Linked DNA regions of Homo sapiens: all the other regions are linked to region 1. The links come from fine-mapping of genetic effects on gene expression. A gene starts in region 1. Each other region holds a variant in brackets. All regions are shown on one strand. Distances are between the middles of the regions. Region 1 holds the start of ADAMTSL4-AS2 (ADAMTSL4 antisense RNA 2). Region 2 overlaps PRUNE1 (prune exopolyphosphatase 1). Region 3 holds the start of FALEC (focally amplified lncRNA regulator of ECM1). Region 4 has its middle 5.6 kb from the start of HORMAD1.

What was found. PIP is the estimated chance that this variant, and not a neighbour inherited with it, causes the effect.
Region 2: its variant is fine-mapped to the expression of ADAMTSL4-AS2 in whole blood (INTERVAL, PIP above 0.99).
Region 3: its variant is fine-mapped to the expression of ADAMTSL4-AS2 in pancreas (GTEx, PIP 0.95).
Region 4: its variant is fine-mapped to the expression of ADAMTSL4-AS2 in whole blood (INTERVAL, PIP above 0.99).

The regions. Positions count from the first base shown.
Region 1 is chr1:150,556,192-150,558,873 of GRCh38, reverse strand. It overlaps ADAMTSL4-AS2 (ADAMTSL4 antisense RNA 2), which reads left to right and starts at 1,150. Exons shown (of 6, transcript NR_187269.1): 1 at 1,150-1,181; 2 at 2,190-2,266; 3 at 2,657-2,682. It overlaps ADAMTSL4 (ADAMTS like 4), which reads right to left. Exons shown (of 19, transcript NM_019032.6): 9 at 2,508-2,682; 10 at 2,081-2,253; 11 at 1,824-1,935; 12 at 1,539-1,724; 13 at 1,251-1,380; 14 at 725-929; 15 at 225-401.
Region 2 is chr1:151,028,185-151,030,866 of GRCh38, reverse strand. It overlaps PRUNE1 (prune exopolyphosphatase 1), which reads right to left. Exons shown (of 8, transcript NM_021222.3): 7 at 1,923-2,081. Among named protein-coding and RNA genes, the nearest start is that of BNIPL, 7.1 kb to the left of the region's middle. The variant G/A (reference allele first, on the strand shown) is at 1,209.
Region 3 is chr1:150,514,880-150,517,561 of GRCh38, reverse strand. FALEC (focally amplified lncRNA regulator of ECM1) reads right to left here and starts at 1,810. Exons shown (of 6, transcript NR_186305.1): 1 at 1,500-1,810. RefSeq lists a silencer at 1,616-1,985 and enhancers at 2,076-2,225, 2,296-2,365. The variant C/A (reference allele first, on the strand shown) is at 1,304.
Region 4 is chr1:150,725,166-150,727,847 of GRCh38, reverse strand. No RefSeq gene overlaps it. Among named protein-coding and RNA genes, the nearest start is that of HORMAD1, 5.6 kb to the right of the region's middle. The variant G/TG (reference allele first, on the strand shown) is at 1,189.

The DNA of each region.
Region 1 (2,682 bases):
TCCGAATCCTGGGTGGTTGGGAATGTCCCCGGGTACCAGGCCCGGACGAGGAATCCTAGCCGGGCCCCTCATGGAAGTTGTTCTCACTTATCTCTGAGTTCCCAGGGTCAGGCATATAGCAGGCGCTTGATCAATACAAGTTTATTGAGCTATGCTGGAAAGGCTGAGGTGTCCTGGGCGTGGTTACCCAGGATGCAGGATATGGCTGGGGGTTCCGGGCTCACCTTGGAGCTCCAGTCGCTGTGGAACCAGGCAGTAGTACAGGGCCCCATGTCACAGGCCTCTCTGCTGGGGGGCTGCGGGGGGCCTGACGCACACTCCTGCTCGCTCACTTCATCACCATTGTTCCCAACACAGCGAACCTGCCGGCTTCTCTGGCCCCGGCCGCACCGCACGGAGCACTGAGGGGGCGAGGGGAATCCAGGGAGCTGGGCTTCCCAGACCTTCTCAGCCAGCTTCCAGCTCTAGGCTTCAGAACCAGGCTCTGCCTTCGATCCCCAGCCCAGCAGTCACATGGCTTCGTGGGCTGAGGAGGAGGCTGAGCCCTAGGGCCCTGGGCCCCCAGTCCCTGGTTCAGTCCCTTATCTGACTTCTATATTGGGGGTCCATATGAAACCCTGTTTGTAAATAGTTTCTGCTGATGAAAAAGAAGTTGAAAAACCACTGCTGTTGTTCACCTGTGCCCATTCCCCTCCCCAGCACCTCCTTGCCTGGGCAAACTCACCTGGCTCCAAGGAGAGCCAACTTCCCAATGGCCACAGAGGCGCAGCTGGCAAGACTGGGTGATGTTGGGCCGGGGGAGATGTCCACAGCGCTCCGGGGGCACCGAGGAGCCACCCCCCCCAAATTCCTGCCGGCACTGCAGCTGGCGGTGCTGGGTGCCGGGGCCACAGGAGCGGCTGCAGGATGTCCACTCGCCAGCCTCCCAGCTGCAGGCACCAGCAGGGCAGGGAAGAGGCGGAGACATAGATGAGATGTGTGGGGCTGCCGTGGCAGCAGAGATGGAAGACACACTGGACGTGGGGGCCTCAGAGGAGAGTGGGCACGTTTGGCGTTTGGAGTCTGGGTTCCTGGGGGGCTCAGCCTGCCATGGCTTTCTTGCTGCCTACCGAATGTCTGCCTTTCTAATCTAATGTTGTCTCTCTGCAGCCAGGAGATGTTGCGTTGAGTGCAGAGTTCAGGTAAGATTCTGGGGGCAACTGCTGTGTTTCCAGTACCCTAACCCTCCCCGTGGGCTCCCCCATACTCACTATGGGGGGCATGGGGTGCCGTGGCAGGGTTCAGGGGAGGCTGGGGGCCTGGCACCCGCGGCACAGCTGCGTTCATCCAGTTCCTCTCCCGACTCACGGGAGATGCAGAGGAAAATGGGGCGCCAGACACCTGAGTGGGTGAGAAGGCAGCCAGGGAGGCAGGAGGCTAGAGCCCAAGCTCAGTGGTGTCCCAGACGCAGGGTCGGGCGTGGCCCCACAATCCAGGATGCGGGAGTGTCAGTTGGGGGGTTTGGACCGAGATGCGGGGAACGCACTGTGATGTCTCACCTTTCCCGCAGGACGCTGAGCATGCAGAGTGTCCCACTCGTTTCCAGTACGCAGCTGGAGACCCCAGGGGTGTCCTGGGATGGGGCGGGGCGGGCATCTGGGGGATCCGCACCTGACGCTGGAGGGTGCCTGGGGTCCGGGCTGGGCGGGGTGCCGGAGCAAGTGGGGGCTCCACCCTCAGAATCTCTGTGCAGGGGAGCAGGCGAATCAGATGCCACCCCACTGCCCCGAGCCAGCCCTGCAGCCTCTCCCTCCTCCTTCCAAGTGCAGGGGTCAGAGTCTTACCCGGCTGAAGCTGGGGGACAGGGGGCTCTGGGGTGGGGTTCTCAAGGATTGGAGGAGGTGAAGAGATGACATACTGATAAAAAACGCCTGGGTTTTCCTCCTGAAAGATCATCTGGGGAGAAGAGAAGATAATGAATATGTGGGGGTGGCCAGAAGAGGATGCCACCAGCTCTCTCTCCCATCTTGACAACCACAGCTCTGCCCAGAGGGAACAGCCTCCCTCCCCAGCATTCAGCTGCCCCTGGCCCCAGGCTCACATAGACATCCACAGGCTGGGTGGTGGGGCCTTCAGCCGACAGACTCTCCCCTTTGCCCTCCTCCCTGGGAGGACGGTTATATCGAAAGACGGTCCCGCCGGCCCTGTAGGACCCAGGGGGATCCACAGCCCAGTTCCCATTGATGATGGACCGGCCCCCAGGGCCACGAAGTGCTGCGGGTCAGAGGTGAGAGATCGGGAAATTCCAGGGTGATAATACCTTCCTCCTCCCACACCGTGTCCTTAGCCTATAGAAGCTCCCACCAGAACCTAAGATCCCCCCAAGCCCTCTCAGCTTCCTCACTCCTTCCACGAGGGGAGGGGCTAGGCCCTGGACTTCCCCCTGTTTGGCTTGCTCACTGCTCTGAGTAGGGGTATGGAGGGCCGAACAGAGACGGAAGTGGAAGGGGAGGCAGCTGGGTGCTCACCCAGGTAGTTGGAGCTAGGCCGGAGCTGGGCAATCTGGAGCCGCAAGGCTCCCGCTGGAATCCACAAGATCTTCTGATAGCCCAGGGGGCCCCCTCGGTCAGTGAGGTTCCCCGAAACAAGGCGACAGGTAGAATCATCACCCCCACAGACTCCACAGCCATCAGGACGCCTGCC
Region 2 (2,682 bases), 470 kb before region 1:
TTGCCTTAGCTCAAAGAGTGAGTAAGAGGCAAACCTAGAACAGAAAAGCACATCTACCTGACTTTAAAAACTGCAGTTCTTGGCCAGGTGCAGTGGCTCAGGCTTGTAATTCCAGCACTTCGGAAGGCCAAGGCAGGTGGATCACTTGAGGTCAGGAGTTCGAGACCTGCCTGGCTAACATGGTGAAACCCCATCTCTACTAAAAATACAAAAATTAGTCAGGCATGGTGGCAGGCGCCTGTAGTCCCAGCTACAGGCTGAGGTGGGAGAACTGACTGAACCTGGGAGGTGGCGGTTGCAGTGAGCCAAGATCACACCACTGTACTCAAGCCTGGGCGACAGAGTGAGACTCCATCTTAAAAAACAAACAAACAGACAAAACTGCAGTTCTTTTCATAATGACGAACTACCTTACACTGAATGAAATCAGATTTGCTTCCTGGGGAGAAGGCAAAGGCAAAGGGGGGCGGGAAAGGACAGACATACCTTCTATGAGAGCAAAGGATTATCTGGCTGTATTCTGTCTTTAGCAGTCCTCACAGAGCCTAGGCAACCCTCAGAATCCCTGAACTGCCTTAAGCCCACCTTTTTTTTTTTTTTTTTTGGAGACGGAGTCTTGCTCTGTTGGCAGGATGGAGTACAGTGGCGCAATCTCGGCTCACTGCAACCTCTGCTTGCCGAGGTTCAAGAGATTCTCCTGCCTCAGCCTCCTGAGTAGCTGGGACTATAGGCACGCACCACCACGCCCAGCTAATTTCCGTATTTTTAAAAGAGATGGGGTTTCACCATGTTGGCCAGGATGGTCTTGATCTCTTGCTCTCGTGATCTGCCCGCCTCAGCTTCCCAAAGTGCTGGGATTACAGGTGTGAGCCACCGCACCCAGCCTTAAGCCCACTTTTAAATTCTTCCCTAGGCTAATCAGTAACCAGCAGAGGAACAGAAGGGGGAGGAAGTAGGAAAGATAGCCAAATCTGGATCTAGATCACTTCTTTACAGAGTTTGCACTATACAGAATAATTAATCCCTGCATAGTAAGTAGCAGAAAAGGTCTCTCGTATTTCTAATTTTCAAGGCAACAGCATAATTCCAGGGGTGAGGAATTAATGATTAAACCAAGAATAGAGTTTTTGTTTTTTTTTTTCCCCAACAGAGATGAGGTCTTGCTATCTTTGCCCAGGCTGGACTCAAACTTTCCAGCTCGGCTGGGC[G/A]CGGTGGCTCACGCCTGTAATCCCAGCACTTTGGGAGGCCAAGGCGGGCGGATCACGAGGTCAGGAGATCGAGACTATCCTGGCTAACACGGTGAAACCCCGTCTCTACTAAAAATACAAAAAATTAGCCGGGCGTGGTGGCGGGCGCCTGTAGTCCCAGCTACTCGGGAGGCTGAGGCAGGACAATGGCGTTAACCCAGGAGGCAGAGCTTGCAGTGAGCCGAGATTGTGCCACTGCACCCCAGCCTGGGCAACAGCACAAGACTGTCTCAAAAAAAAAAAAAAAAAAAAAACTTTCCAGCTTAAGCAATCCTTCTGCATCAGCCTCCCGAGTTGCTGGGACTACAGGCACGTGCCACTGTCCCTAGCTCAAGAAGGGAATTTTAACTCCGGATTTATAACATTTCCTTCTAACTAGATTTCGTTCTTTCAAAGTAGGAATTGAATCTCTAGTTCTCTTTGGAATTCCCCCTTTCTCAACAATGCTATGATTAAGGATGTTCATTAAAAAAAAAAAAAGGATATTCATATAGAGAGAGAATGGGAAAAAGCAGAAAGGGGAGGAAACAGGTCCAGAAACAGGTCAAGGGACCTCATGTAAGTACATTAATATAAGAACCTAAGAGAGGTCCTTATAGGACAGCTGTAGAGCACAGAGGTACATACAGGCAGACTCTGTAAGGCTCTTAGGTTGGAGAAGGGACACAGACTCACCGTTGTTTGGAGTGCCACATGGGGACAGAAAATAGCCAACTGCCGCACTGGCTCATTGTGAGTGTTGAAAAAGATAGTCATGGCAACCAGGACATCATAGCTGTGAGCCTGGCAGAAAGCATGGAGATCTGCAAGGAGGTTAGACCTCTGCAGAAAGGCCTGAAAGGGAAGAAACGGAGAGGGATGAAGGACTTTCTCATCATCATCAATAAAACATCCTTGGGCCGGGCACGGTCGCTTACGCCTATAATCCTAGCACTTTGGGAGGCCGAGGCAGGTGATCACTTGAGGTCAGGAGTTCGAGACCAGCCTAGCCAACATGGTGAAACCCTGTCTCTGGTAAAAATACAAAAATTAGCCGGGCATGGGGGCATATGCCTGTAATCCCAGCTACTCAGGAGGCTGAGGCAGGAGAATCGCTTGAACCAGGGAGGCGGAAGTTGCAGTGAGCTGAGATTGCGCCATTGCACTCCAGCCTGGGGGACAAGAGCGAAACTCCGTCTCAAAAAACAAAAACAAAACAAAACAAAACAAAAAATTAGCTGGGCATGCCGGCACGCACCAGTAATCCCAGCTACTAGGGAGGCTGAGGCAGGAGAATTACTTGAACCCGGGAGGCAGAGGTTGCAGTGAGCTGAGATCATGCCATTCCACTCCATCCTGGGCAACAGAATAAGACTCAGGCTCAAAACAAACAAACAAACAAACATACATACATAACTGCTAGAGGTTTTTTGAGCATAGGAGATAGTACTTCAGT
Region 3 (2,682 bases), 41 kb after region 1:
ATGAGGGCTCCACCCTCATGACCTAATTACCTCCCAAAGGCCCCACCTCCTAATACCATCACACTGGGGGCTAGGATTTCAACAAATGCATTTGGGGGTACACAAACATTCAGTCTGTAACACTTACCTTAGTTACCACAGCCTCAAACTTGGTAGTCACCCTAGACACCAGCAAACAGGTTCTCTCAACCCTATCTCCTGAAGAGCTTTTAAAAAAAGTCCCCTCCCTCACCATGCCCTCAACCTTTTTTTTTTTTTTTTTTTTGAGACGGAGTCTGGCTCTGTCACCCAGGCTGGAGTGCAATGGCACAATCTTGGCTCACTACAACCTCTGCCTCCTGGGTTCAAGCAATTCTTCTGCCTCAGCCTCCCAAGTAGCTGGGATTAGAGGCATGCGCCATCATGCCTGGCTAATTTTGTATTTTTAGTAGGGACGGCTTTCACCATGTTGGTCAGGCTGGTCTCGAACTCCTGACCTCGGTTGATCCACTGGCCTCGACCTCCCAAAGTGCTGGGATTACAGGTGTGAGCCACCGCGCCTGGCTAGGTATATTTAAATATACCACACTTTCTGTGTTATTTCCTCTTCCTGGAAGATCTCCCTGAAGGCCAGGCTAGGTGGCTGTCTCAGAATTCTGAGAATATTTCTAACATTAGATGTTCAAGTCTCCACAGACGCTAAAGTCCCTGAAGGTGGTGTTGTAGTCTTCGTTATAGCCAGAGTACTTTTAGCACTCTGCCTAACACAAAAAGGACTGTTTACTTTAGCTGAACTTTGCATACATTCAATGCTTTGTATATCCTTCCCTTTCAACAAAACCCTACTCAAGCTTGAATTCTGTGAAGCTTTCCCTGGCCTCTCCAATAATTAGGAGCTCTGACTCCTTTACTTTACTCACCGCCCCTGAATTGAGCAAGTTATATTTTAATAGTGTATACAACGAATTGCAGTGAATGTTAACACGTTCACCTTTTATTGCTAACAGCAATGCTACCCGTGCTTCCAGGCTCTATCCAAACTCACTGCTTCCAGATAATAGCTGGCTGGTCCCTAGGGAGAATTCTTTAACTCTCAGCATTTGATGCTCAATTCAGTACCTCCTCATATTCAGCACTGTAGCTTACAAGTGCTCTCCGGGTTCCCTTCCTCTCCTCCCCGACAGACTAAACTGCTAGGGTTTGGGACCGCAGTCCTCCTCTCCTCTGACTCCCACCTCTCTGCAGCATTTGGCGCTGCACTTTGCAAACGCAGCTCTAAAGCATCTCCGGGAAGCTCCTGCACAGACCAAAGCCCCCCCGCTCC[C/A]TTTTTTTTTTTGAGACAGAGTCTCCTCTCTCGCCCAGGCTGGAGTGCGGTGGCGCGATCTTACTGCAGCCTCCGCCTCCCGGGTTCAAGCAATTCTCTGCCTCAGCCTCCCGAGTAGCTGGGATTATAGGCGCCCGCCACCACGCCCTGCTAATTTTTTTTTTTTTTTGTATTTTTAGTACAGACGGGGTTTCACCTTCTTGGCCAGGCTGGTCTTGAACTCCTGACCTCGTGATCCACCGCCTCGGCCTCCCAAAGTGCTGGGATTCCAGGCATGAGCCACCGCGCCCGGCCCAAAGCCCTTTAAAGACAAGTCTCCGCTTGCGGATTCGCCCGCCAGGTGACAAGGCTTCGTGGGCCAGGACTCCGCCCGCTCCCCGTGGGCTGGGGCGACCCAGGCCAGGAGGGTACACGTGGGACCGGGGGGTAGGGGAATTGCTGGGCCGGCCTTTTCCCCCTGCCTCCCCCGGTTCCTCTGTCCTGGAGGCCGTAGGAGATGCGCAGGACGCCCGCACATGCGCAGTGTCACTCTCGAGCTCCAGACTCGAGCGCGGCGGGCAGGAGGCCCAGGCGGCCCCGGGCTCCCGAGACTGGGCTGCCGGCTCAGGGGCGGGGCACAGCGCTGCCCTCGCCCGCTCATTGGCTCGCGTGCTGACGGACAGGTGGGGCGGACAGCCGGCGAAAGATCTGAGGAGCCGCTGGACTGGAAACTGCTACTGGGCTAAAAATACTTAAGTAAATAAATGAAAGCCTGTGGAGGAGGAGAGGAAGGAGAGGCGGGCGTGGGTTTGGGAGCAACTGAGGCTCCGCTTGCCCCTGGCTGGCGCAGGATGATGGTTCTTGGTTCACTCTCTCCGTCTCCGCTAGAACTGGAGCGGAGAAGTCTGCTTTCTGGAAGGTCGTCCTGGCGGCGGAGTCACACAGGACTTGTTCCCCTGGGACTCTTCATTCCGAGTCTTCATTCCGATTCTTTCAGATCCAGCCTTGAGGCCTCGGGTTCCTGGGAGCAGCTTTGTAGGGCTTGAGAGTCCTAGTCACCGCCACCCTCGGGTCCAGCTCAGGTTGGGGGCTACAGCTCCGTCCCTCCGGCACTTGGGACGACACTCTTTGAACTGGCCTCCCAGCGTCCCGCCTTGCTGGCTGCCGACTAAACTTTTTTTTTTCTTTTTGAGACTGGGTCTCGCAGGTTGAAGTGCAGTGCCGAGACCATAGCTCTTTGGGTGGCTGGGATTACAGGCGCGCGCCACCTCCCCGGCTCTCCGACTAGACATTATTTTATTTTATTTTATTTTTGAGGCACAGTCTCGCTGTGTCGGCCAGGCTGAGTGCAGTGGTGCGATACTGGCTCACTGCAACCTCCACCTCCCAGGTTCAAGTGA
Region 4 (2,682 bases), 170 kb before region 1:
AATTTCAAACTTATAGAGATAAAAAATTATCTAAAAATATAAATTTAAAACAAAAACATTTAGAATTTATTCTGGAACAATTTCTAGACAGTAGTATGCAAGATGACTTGAAGAAAATTTTTTTAAAAGCCAGGTGCAGTGGCTCACACCTGTAATCCCAGCACTGTGGGAGGCTGAGGTGGGAGGATCGCTTGAGCCAGAAGTTCAAGAGGCTGGTCTCAAACTCCTGGGCGCAAGTGATCCTCCTGCCTCTTGTTATGAGCACATAAAAAGATCTCCATCTCTACAAAAAATAAAAAAGTTAGCCAGGTGTGGTGGTATGTGCCTATAGTCCCAGCTACCAGGGGAAAGGCTGAGGTGGGAGGATCACTTGAGCCCAGGAGATTGAGGCTGCAGTGAGCCATGATAGCGCCATTGCACTCCAGCCTGGGTGACCTTGTTTCAAAATAAATAAATTGGCAAATAATAAAATAAATAAAATTTTAAAATGAGACAACCTAGGCCGGGCGTGGTGGCTTACGCCTGTAATCCCAGCACTTTGGGAGGCCGAGGCAGGCAGATCACTTGAGGTCAGGAGTTGGAGACCAGCCTGGCCAACACAGTGAAACCCCGCCTCTACTAAAAATACAAAAATTAGCTGGGCATGGTGGTGGGTGCCTGTAATCCCAGCTACTTGAGAGGCTGAGACAGGAGAATTGCTTGAACTCAGGAGGTGGAGGTTGCAGTGAGCCGAGATCATGCCATTGCACTCCAGCCTGGGCAACAAGAACGAAACTCTGTCTCAAGAAAAAAAAAGAGACAATCTAAAAGATATTCTAGTAGTCTATATGTGTGGTGATAAAGCCCTAAACTAAATACATCATTTCTGAAAACAGCAAAAAAATAAAAAATAAAGCAAATCTGGGAGCCATCACAGAGTAAAAGTTGACAGAATTTTAAACTGTATAATAAAAGTAAAGAAACGGTGCTTGCTTTGGCAGCACATATACTCAAATTTGAATGATACAGAGAAGATTAGCCAAAAAATTTGAAAAATTATATTAAAAAAAGAAACAAGAAGATTTAAATATTCCAGAACTAGGCATCCATGAGACAATGCCATTAAAACATATAACATAAATGTGACAGATACTTAGTATTTCCTTTCTCTTTTCTTTTTTCCTTTCTTATCTTTTTTTTTTTTTTTTT[G/TG]AGACAGGGTCTCACTCTGTCACTCAGGCTGGAGTGCAGTGATGCCATCACTGCTCACTGCAGCCTTGAACTCCTGAACTTAAGCTATTTTCTCACCTCACACACCTTCCCCACCCCTCCAGTAGCTGGGACTAGAGGTGCAAGCCACCATTTCTGGCTTATTTGTGTGTGTGTGTGTGTGTGTGTGTGTGTGTGTGTGTGTGTGTGTGTGTAGAGATGGGAGTCTCATTATGTTGCCCAGGCTGGTCTCCAACTCTTGGCCTCAAGTGATCCTCCCACTTTGGTCTCCCAAAGTACTGGGATTACAGGCATAAGACTTACTATTTCTTTGAATCAAATTATTATTTTTTGACTCTTCTCTTCTAGATGAGAATCTTGATGATGCTTCAAGTATGCATACTCTAAGTTACCAGAAAGACTATAAATCAGAACATGTAATAAAGGGGGCCGGGCGTGGTGGCTCATGCCTGTAATCCCAGCACTTTGGGAGGCCAAGGCAAGCCGATCACCTGAGGTCAGGAGTTCGAGGCTAGCCTGGCCAACATGGCAAAATGCCACCTTTACTAAAAATACAAAAATTAGCCTGGCGTGGTGGTGGACGCCTGTAACCCCAGTTACTTCAGAGGCTGAGGCAGGAGAATTGCTTGAACCCAGGAAGGGGAGGTTGCAGTGAGTCGAGATCACGCCACTGCATTCCAGTCTGGGTGACAGAGCAAGACTCTGTCTCAAAAAAAATGAAAAAAAATGAAAATAGGCCTGGCATAGTAGTTCATGCCTGAAACACTTTGGGAGGCTAAGGCAGGAGTATTACTTGAGGCCAGTAGTTCAAGATCAGTCTACACAACATAGCAAGACCCTGACTCTACAAAAAAATTAAAAAGTAGCCGAGAGTTGTGGCACACACCTGCGGTCCTAGTTGTTACAGAGGCTGAGGAGGGAGGATTGCTTGAGCCAGGAGTTTGAGGCTGCAGTGAGGTATGATTGCATCACTGCACTCCAGCCTGGGAGACTGAAAGAGACCTTGCCTCTAAAGAAAAAAAAGTGGCTGGGCACAGTGGCTCATGCCTGTAATCCCAGCATTTTGGGAGTCCAAGGTGGGCAAATCACCTGAGGTCAGGAGTTCAAGACCAGTCTGGCCAACATGGTGAAACCCCATCTCTACTAAAAATACAAAAATTAGTTGGATGTGGTGGTGCGTGCCTGTGATCCCAGCTACTGGGGAGGCTGAGGCAGGAGAATCCCTTGAACCCAGGAGGTGGAGGTTGCAGTGAGCCAAGATTATGCCACTGCACTCCAGCTTGGGCAAAAGAGTGAGACTCCGTCTCAAAAAACAACAACAACAACAACAACAAAAAAAAACACACAAAACAGTGACTTAATTATAATTCAAAATAATTATTAGACCAAGATTTTCACTATTTTTAACCCTAATAACAAGGTTCTAGTCTTCATTTCTCTCCTAGTTGAATGACTTTGGGCAAATCTTTTCATATC